Linked DNA regions of Homo sapiens. The protein of the gene in region 1 purifies or fractionates together with the protein of each later gene. This does not show direct contact. Each region holds a gene or a part of one and is shown on either strand. Other genes may lie near its edges.

Region 1 (5,244 bases):
ACTAAGTGTGGCCCCAGTATGGTGACCTCCTAGGAGTGGGGGACCACCAGGTTGCCTAAGGAGGGGTGAACTGGCCCAGTTTGGAAATGGAGCAGGTCAAAACTCCCGTGCTGATCAATAGTGGGATTGCACTTGTGAATAGCCACTGCACTGCAGCCTGGGCAACATAGTGAGACCCCATCTCTTAAAAAAAATAAGACAAAAATTACTCCAGAGGCAGGGTCAGTGTGTTTGATCTCACCTATATGAGGGATAAGTTTGGGAGTTATGAAAAGAAAATCGTTATGAAAAGAAGATTGGAGCTGAGGGAATAGGCCATAGGCAGTGCTCTCAGGTGAATAGGAGTACCCCACCCTGGCTCTCCTGATATTTCTTCTTATCCCTTCTGTAGCCATCGTCAGCCAGTGGCAGCAGGAGTCCAAAGAGAAGGTGGTGTCCCTCCTGCTGTCCCACCTTCCCCTGCTTCAGCCAGGCAACACAGAGGCCAAGTCGGAGTACATGAGGCTACTGCAGAAAGTGCTGGCCTACTCAATCGAGAGCAATGCTTTCATCGAGGAGAGTCGCCAGCTGCTTTCCTATGCCCTCATCCACCCAGCCACCACACTGGAGGACCGCAACGCACTGGCCCTCTGGCTGAGCCACCTGGAAGAGCGGTTGGCTAGTGGCTTCCGCTCCCGGCCAGAGCCCTCCTACCATTCACGTCAAGGCTCAGATGAGTGGGGGGGCCCTGCAGAGCTAGGCCCTGGGGAGGCAGGGCCAGGCTGGCAGGACAAGCCACCCCGGGAAAATGGACACGTGCCCTTCCACCCATCCAGCTCAGTGCCGCCAGCCATCAACAGTATTGGGAGCAATGCAAACACAGGTAAGTGGCGGGGGTGTCCCAGAAGGCCATGCCTACTTGAAAAAGGTTGGACTAGGCTCAGTGAGAGCTCTCTCGCTCTGTGGCATTAGACAAGTCACATAAGCTGTAGGCCTCAACTTTATGAGGCAATGCAGAGGCTGTGAACTGGCTTTCCCAGAGCTGAATCTGACCTACAGACATGTCTTATTGAACCCATACTTTGGTTTGGTTTTATTTTGTTGTGTTGGGTTTTTAAATAAATGTGAGTGGTACAAAGAATCAAGAATTTTTCCCTAAAAATGAGATTTCCAGCCTTTCTTGAGAAGTCAAAAGATCTAGCAACTCAACAAGATCTGTTTTCCTAGTGGCAGCAATAATATAGAGCTTAATGTTGAGCATGCCCTTTAGACCCTGCACAAGTGCCCTAGTCTGCCTCTGCTCCCACCAACCCCCCTTTGGGCATTTCTGATATATACCTGGCCTCTAAGGGCATCAGGCTATGACGCTTGATGGAGGTGTGCATACCATCATCTGAGATCCCTTCCAGTTCAGACAACATTATGGATTTTATGTATCTGGCCTCACTTTACAGCTTTGTTTCTGAGAACACTGTCTGTATAAGACAAAACTCATGCTGCAAGGTATTTGTAATAGTAGGTAGCATTTTTCAGCATTGACTATGCTAGGTACTCTTTTATAGACACTTTTCAGGTATGATCTCAGTCCGCATCACAACCGTATCATTAGCCCTATTCAACAGATGAGGACATCGGGACTCAGAGGTGAAGTGATGTGTTCAAAGTCACACGTAGAACAAGTGGTGGAACAGACCCAACCAGTCTGATGGCAGAGCCTGCCTCTGACCACTACACTGTCCTGCCAACTAAGCAGGTTTGAAAGAGCTCTCTTAGTAAAAGCCCTGCAGGCGGGAGTGAGCAGAAGTTGTTGGTATCCCAGTGACTTTTTGAAATGCACAGGATAAGGGAGGGTGGATTTTCCAAGCCATGGTAAGGCAGCATGACCTGACCCAGGGTGAGGGAGAGGGTTCATGATGTAAACCTCAGAGTAGCTAGTCACCTTCAGCAGGCACTGGTTTAAAGCAAGACAAGAGAGAGTGACAGTGAAATGTCACATGTGTCAGTGGGTGGGGGTAACCTCGGGTCCCTAATGCCCCGCTGTCTGGTACCTGGTGCTCATCAGTTATTCCTTGAGCCTGTTTTTCCCCCAGTTAGTGTGGCTATTCTGGTCCATCTGCCTCCCTCCCAGTTGCTGGTGAGAACCTGGGAAGATAGAGGGATAGAAGGGCAGTTTCAGGAAACTTAGCAACCTGAGGTGTCTTGGACCTCATTTTCCAGTCATGGAGCATCACAGTTCCAGGATGGGAGGATGTATTAATAATGATCATTCTAGGCAAAAAATATTGAGTGCTAGTCCGGGCATGGTGGCTCACGCCTGTAATCCCAGCACTTTGGGAGGCCGAGGCAGGCAGATCACCTGAGGTCAGGAGTTCGAGACCAGCCTGACCAACATGGTGAAACCTCATCTCTACTAAAAATATAAAAATTAGCTGGGTATGGTGGTGCATGCCTATAATTCCAGTTACTCGGGGGGCTGAGGCAGGAAGGTCGCTTGAACCCAGGAGGTGGAGGTGGCAGTGAGCCGAGATCTTGCCATTGCATTCCAGCCAGGGCAACAGAGCGAGACCCCATCTCAAAAAAAAAAAAACAAAAACACACATCGAGTGCTTAGTCTTTACTAGGAGCTATTCTAAGAACTTTATACATATAAACTCAAGGTTTAAAGCCAGGCATTCTGACTATAGACTTCATACTCTGAACTACTATGCTACACTACCTCCACCAAAAAGTACCTCTCCTGGAGATGCTCATCCCTCACCAAGGGGAGGGGTCACCCAGGCAGGGTGCCTATAAATTTCTTTGTCTTCATACCTTTTGTGCTCCCCATCATGGGTACCCCAGCAGCCATTAAAGGATGAAGATTGAACAATGTTGATAGGGGTTTGGACCAAAAGAGGAAAAGGAATTGGGCATTCCAAGTAGAAGGCACAGCATGAAATAAGCACGGGGTGGATAATTAGAGGGGACAGTATACAGACAGATCTGGCTGGGGTGGATTCGAATGAGTAATAACAGTAGCAGAGACTTGTGCTTACCGTGTGCCTATCCCTCTGCTAAGGACTTCATGCAGAAATGGAGGCAGAGAGGTGAATGAAGTGACTTGCCCAAGATCACACAGAGGCGACAGAGTCAGAGTCAGGATTTGAACTCAGGCCTGTCTTTACCCTCAGACCTCAGTGTGTGAAGGCTACATTCTGGGGGGCGTTGAAGGACAGGAGAAGCTTTTGGATTCCAGGCAGTTGCAGGAAACAGGAAATCATTAAAATATTTTTGAGTGGGGAGCAAGGATTGGCCTTTGAGGGCAGGCAGCTTGGGTTTGGGGTGCTGCCAAGAACAGATCAGGATTTCTTGGAGAGTGCAAGGCCCTGGATCTCTGGCCGGCATTCTTGTTTTTGTCATTCTCATGCTGTGGCCAGCCTCCACCCCAGTGCGGAGCCAAGCAGGGCTCCTCAGGAACTGCACGATCATTCCAGTCAGGGTAATTTCCTGCCTCTCAGCCTCTCCTGCCTACTTCTTGGCTGAGAAGGGAGAAAGAAGGAGGCCAGAGACACCAAAACAGGCAAAAAGGCCTGTCTTGAGGATTCCCCAGTCCCCCAGGGCCCAGAGTGTGCCATGTTCCCCAAGAGTGCTGAGTGGGGACAGAAGCCAGGGCTGAGGGAGTCTAGAGGCTGAAGAACTCCTGGGAAGAGGACCCTGGACACTCTGGGGTAGGGCAGAAACTGGTATTAAGGGTGGGCCACTGCCTTGCCCTGTCCCTTAGGTGACTTCCTAGCCAGGAGCATTAGTATTGTCACAGCTGAGGGAAGATGCTCTGGGGCCTGCACCAGGCTAGCCCTCCTTCCTGGGCTGGGTGTCACTGTAGCACTGGCAGGAACCCCAGCCTTTCCATCAGAAACAAGGCTTGGGCTCTGTCTCAGCCTGTCAACTCCCGTGGGAACTGGGGCAAAGGGCTTCAGCTCCCTGGGCCTTGATGTCCTCACCTACCCAGGGTGAGGCTCGTTGGCTTTGTTTCATTTCTTTTTGTCTAGGCTGACTTGGGGTACTTCTGGATGCCATAGGTGGAGCTCAGAGGCCCTCTTAGCACCCTTTTGTCCTTTATGAAACTTCGTTGGAAGGACTTCTGTGTGTCATGCCCTGTGCCTGATCATGGGATTGCAGAAGTAATTGGACTGGGCTGCCATTCTCCATGGACCCACAGTCCAGTGCAAGAGGGAGGCTAGTGAGGAGGGCAGCAAGCAAGAGGGAGGCTAGTGAGGAGGGCAGCAAGCGCCAGGCCTGAGGCAGCAGCAGAGGGGTACATGACCGAGGCATGAAGGGAGAAGTGGCTGATGGAGAAGAGTTGGCGAGGTGAGCGAGGCAGAGGAAAAAGCACAGATAAAGGTCTGGGAGCTCATGGGAACCTGCCCTGTCTTGGGAGTGGTTAAAAATCAAGTTGGAGGCCAGGCATGGTGGCTCACACCTGTAATCTCAGCACTTTGGGAGGCCAAGGCAGGCGGATCACCTGAGGTCGGGAGTTCAAGACCAGCCTAAGCAACATGGAGAAACCCCCGTCTCTACTAAAAAAATACAAAATTAGCCAGGCGTGGTGGTGGGTGCCTGTAATGCCAGCTACTCAGGAGGCTGAGGCAGGAGAATTGCTTGAACCCGGGAGGCAGAGGTTGCAGTGAGCCGAGATTGTGCCACTGCACTCCAGGCTAGGCCACAAGAGTGAAATTCCATCTCTAAAAAATATATATATATATGACCAGGCACAGGTGGCTTACGCCTGTAATCCCAGCACTTTGGGAGGCCAAGGCAGGTGGATCACCTGAGGTCAGGAGTTTGAGACCAGCCTGACCAATATAGTGAAACCCTGTCTCTACTAAAAATACGAAAAACATTAGCTGGGCATGGTGTTGGCCACCCGTAGTCCCAGCTACTCGGGAGGCTGAGGCAGGAGAATCGCTTGAACCCAGGAGGTGGAGGTTGCAGTGAGCCAAGATTGCACCACCGCACTCGGCGACAGAGCAAAACTCCATCTCAAAAAAAAAAATCAAGTTGGATTCCTTTGCCAACCTCAGACTTGGGATGGACAGAGGGTATGGAGCATCCTTCAGAAGAGGACCTGGGATCACCCTGAGTCACCAGGCCTCATGAGTGGCCAGTTTGGGCTCACTGCAGAAAAAAAATGGGAGGTAGTGAGGCCCCATAACAGGGTTGTTGAGGAAGCAGCTTACGTACTTCATTCATTACAAGATATAATGATGTTTAAGATGGGACAGGTTT
Region 2 (4,372 bases), on another chromosome or scaffold:
ATCCTTATATGCTTGGACTCAATAACGGCAAAGAAAGCTTGAAAAATATGATTCCACAGTAAAAGTTGACTTAATAGAATAGTGGTTGAAGAAAATTTTGTGGATAGAATATGCTTAGGGATTTTTAATAACAGCATTTGTTGCCTCACTGGTTCTTTTTAAGGAAATCCTTCCTGATTGCTTCAGTCAAATATATTTAAAGCTGATTAAAGGATGGGGTAATAAAATATGAGAATGGCTGAGTTAAAAGAAGACACTGAAACCAGTCTTATTTACATCTATAGCAATTACTTGTTAAATTAGCAGATGATAATAAAGATGTTACAACATCAGGGAAGCCAAAGAATTTCCATTAGGAGACTAAGAGAGCTAGAAAAAAATGGTAAAAAATGAGCAAAAATCTGCTTAGAAAATGTTGTGGGTGACATGGACTGAATTCACTTGAAATTTACTGAGTTCAAATAGTTATTTTTAACCACTTCTTGCCAGAAAATGAATTTAAAATTGGAGAAAATTATAAGCTATAATTATAGTTCAAGAAGGCAGGATTCAGCCTCTAAATTCAACTGCCTGGGATCAAATTCTACTTCTGCCACTTACTCACTTTGTGACCTCAGAGAGGTACCTAAACATCTCTGTGCCTCGGATTTCTGATCTGTAAATGAGTTAATATTGGTACCTATTTCTGGGCTGCTGGGTTAATATATTCAAGTTCCCTAGAACAGCATGCTTAACTACTAGATGCTAAGACGGAAATATCCCTTGGGTAGAGACCATGCTGTATGTGCTTGTGCAGGTGAGGTGTTTGTAACAATAACTCTTCCCAATCATCCATAATAGTTCTAACACTGAATTAGTGCCAGACATTGTTCCAAAAATGTTAACAAATTTCTGACATAAAAGGTTATGGAATATATTTATAGAACTAGAAAATACATAAATTTGTAGGAAAGAACTAAACAATCCAAATGATACATGTGGAAGATTGGCAAATGTTGAGAAGGACCTTTGATAATATCAAAGTCAATATTTCTTATCTGGGAGGCTGATAGAATCACATGAGATGTTTTACTTTTTCTTTAATATCTGAGTTCCTAACATAGACAAAATAAATCATAATCTTTTAGGGGTGTTTCCTAGACATCAGTATTTTTTAAGGCTTTACGGTTGTTTCTAACATGCAGCTAAGATATAGAAACTCTGAAATTTCTTTTCAGCTGCCTTGTAACCACATATTGTAACCAAGGTCTAGGGAGATGAAGTAAATTGCCTAATGCCACAGAAAGCTAATGATGTCCTGCCTAACTTCTTTCATGTCTAAACATGGCTTGAGTTACTCTTTCCTCCAAATCCTTATTGCTATATTAGGACCTAGGGAAATGCACTGTGACAATGATTACACAAAAGATCCACATTTAAAAGAAATTTACTAATCTAAAAGAGAAAATAAAAGAAGGCTAAAGACTCTAATGAATGGATATAAAAATAATTCTGCCCCATATTTCCAAAAAAAAGATATAACAATAAATTTCCCATAACATTAAAAAAACACAAATTTGAGAAAAATTGATTATAGTAATAATCAACTATGCAAATATTACATAGGAAAAAATATAAATCTGCAGTAGTAATTACTTATTTCATAATGATAATCATGAAGAAAGGAGATAAGAAATGTTTGATTTCCCATTTACAGACTCCATAGATTGAAAAAATATAGCCAGCCCTAGATATACAGAAAGAAATTGGTGAAAATAGACATAACATGGCTGCAGACTAAAGATACTTTCTCTTCTATCCTTTATTCAGGAATGGCTGAGGTAAAATTTATTTTCTAGGTGTCAGGTTTGAATAATTCAATAGCTTTTAAAAAAAATGGTTCATATTTAAAAGGACACTTGGTCCAGAGATTTTTGTTGTTGTTGTTGTTGTTGTCCCGGAGATTTTTTTCCCTGCCGACTTCAGAATTGCTACAGGTAACATTGCTATTTTCTTCAATGTTTCAATGTAAGCCTTTATTTATACTTATGCTTAATTGCTCAGTTTTTCTAAAGGGTATTTCCTGTTTAAGGTTATTCAGAAGATGTTTGATCTTACTTAATTCTAATTTTCTCTTACAACAGATTGCTGCTGCAGAAAACAATGGAAATGAATCAGGTGTAAGAGAGCTACTAAAAAGGATTGTGCAGAAAGAAAACTGGTTCTCTGCATTTCTGAATGTTCTTCGTCAAACAGGAAACAATGAACTTGTCCAAGAGTTAACAGGCTCTGATTGCTCAGAAAGCAATGCAGGTATTTGTAATTTTACTGAGGAAGATTCTTCAAATTCTGCCTAGTGATTGAGAATTCAATAAAGCAGAAAGACACAATGCTAAACACCAAGATTTTTAGAATCAAAATTTTAAGAGTGGAACATATGTGATAGATCATCTATTTTATCACCTTAACAAATGAGGAAATTGATGCCTGGGAAAATATCAACTGATCAAAGACCATTTTTCATCCAACCAACACTCTTTCTACTACCTTATTTTAAAAACAATATGACTACCAGAAATTTTATCAAGATTATGTAACATTAAATATACACAAATACATTGGAAGAAAGTATTTTAGTGGTTATAAAAAATCTGCTGCATATTCTTCTGAACATTTTTATACATTTTAAGCAATGTATTAAGCATTTGATAAAAGGATTGTTTTGTCAATATATCTCAACCTTACCTAATGTGAGATTTTAAACAGCATTCAATAATAGTAATAACATAACATTTTATAGCTCCTTCTCCTACATTATTTGTAAATCTCACTTAAACTGCTATCTTATTTTTCTTTTCGTAGTATGCATCCTATGTTTCCAAAAATATCATATGAAAGACAAATTGAAAGTTAACTATTAATTAATTATAATCATTGCAGTTTTGTTCTGGTGACCCTAACTAATGAAAACTTTGCTGTAAAAAGTGGGGTGCTGCTGTAACAAACACCTAAACGTGTGGAAGTGGCTTTGGAACTGGGTAATTGATAGAGACTGTAAGAGTTTTGGGTGAATGGTAGAAATATGGGTGTTCAGGGTGATTCTGGTGAGGTCACAGAGAGAAATGAGAAAAATGTCATTGGAAACTGGAAGAAAGGTGATCCTTGTTATAAAATGGGATAAAACTTGATCTCACAAGTAATGGATTTGGATATTTGGCTGAGAAAATTTCTTAGCAAAATGCTGAAGGAGCAGCTTGATTTCCCCTAACTGCTTATAGTAAAATGCAAAAGAAGAGAAATTAATTGAAGGAGTTGTTATGCAAAAAGGAACCAAAATTTAAATATCTGGAAAATTCTCAGCCTATCCATATGGCAAAAAATGAGAAATTGTGTTATAAAGAGAACAACCAATTGATAACAAGATCATGGGTGCTACTGATGGACTTAATCAGCCATTTCAGCAGAAGGTAGGAGTAGAGATATATTATACCAGCAAATACACTTCCAGTTTGAACTGAAGGAGACAGAGAAAGCAGGACAGAATGAGAAAAGGATACTGGACTTTCTGGATTCTACAGAACCAGACCATAGAGCTATTTGGCTGTGAATGTGTACTATTCTTCAGGGAAAGGAAAGAATGCCCCCAAAAGTGATACAGAAGTCATCAGGGTTGCCACTTCCACCACAGACCCAGAGGCCAAGGCAGTTTCCTTTTTGGTTTCAAAGGGCAAAACTGTCTCTCTGGTTTTAGTGAGCCCTCAGGATGACCCTGCCTAGTGTCTCAGAAGCAGAGCTATCCTCACAGAAAGCTGTGTGGATGGAGCCCTTAGAGAGAGCAGGCTGTCTTGCAGAGCCCTAGAACCTGCCATTCCGTGGACCTGGAAGGCAGAGCATCAAACCAAACAGAGCTATTCTCAAGCCTTATAAGCCTTAAGATGTGACAGAATTTACCTTAATAAGTTTTGGATTTGCTTGGGACCCATCACCCTTGCTTTCTTTCCTATATCTCCTTTTTGGAATAAGACGTCCATCCTATGCCTGTCCCACCATTGTATTATGGAAAAGAAACATGTAGCTCAACTGGTTTCACAAGTTCACAGCTGGTGATGAATTTGCCTTATCATGAATCACACCTCTAGTCTCATCTACGTCTGATTTGGACAATGTTTAGGTGAGACTTTTGACTTTAGACTTAGAGTTCATGCTTCAGTGAGTTAAGGCACTTGGGCTGATGAGATGAGATGAATGTATTTTGTATGTAGTAAAGATATGAATTTTGGGAAGCCAATGGTAAAATGCTACAGATGGAATTTTGTCCTCCTAATACTCATATGTTGGAACCTAATATGACTCTATCTGGAGACAGTGATAGTAGGAGATAGTTAAGATTAAA

The links. The genes of interacting proteins can lie anywhere in the genome.
Region 2: the proteins of SAMD4B (region 1) and IFIH1 purify together in Homo sapiens (co-immunoprecipitation; one large-scale study listed by IntAct). This does not show direct contact.

What each region holds. Positions count from the first base shown.
Region 1 is NC_000019.10:39,369,264-39,374,507, forward strand, and holds part of SAMD4B (protein Smaug homolog 2), read left to right. Parts: exon of another isoform or gene 1-185; intron 186-391; coding exon 392-862; intron 863-5,244.
Region 2 is NC_000002.12:162,308,685-162,313,056, reverse strand, and holds part of IFIH1 (interferon-induced helicase C domain-containing protein 1), read left to right. Parts: intron 1-2,123; coding exon 2,124-2,292; intron 2,293-2,473; exon of another isoform or gene 2,474-4,150; intron 4,151-4,372.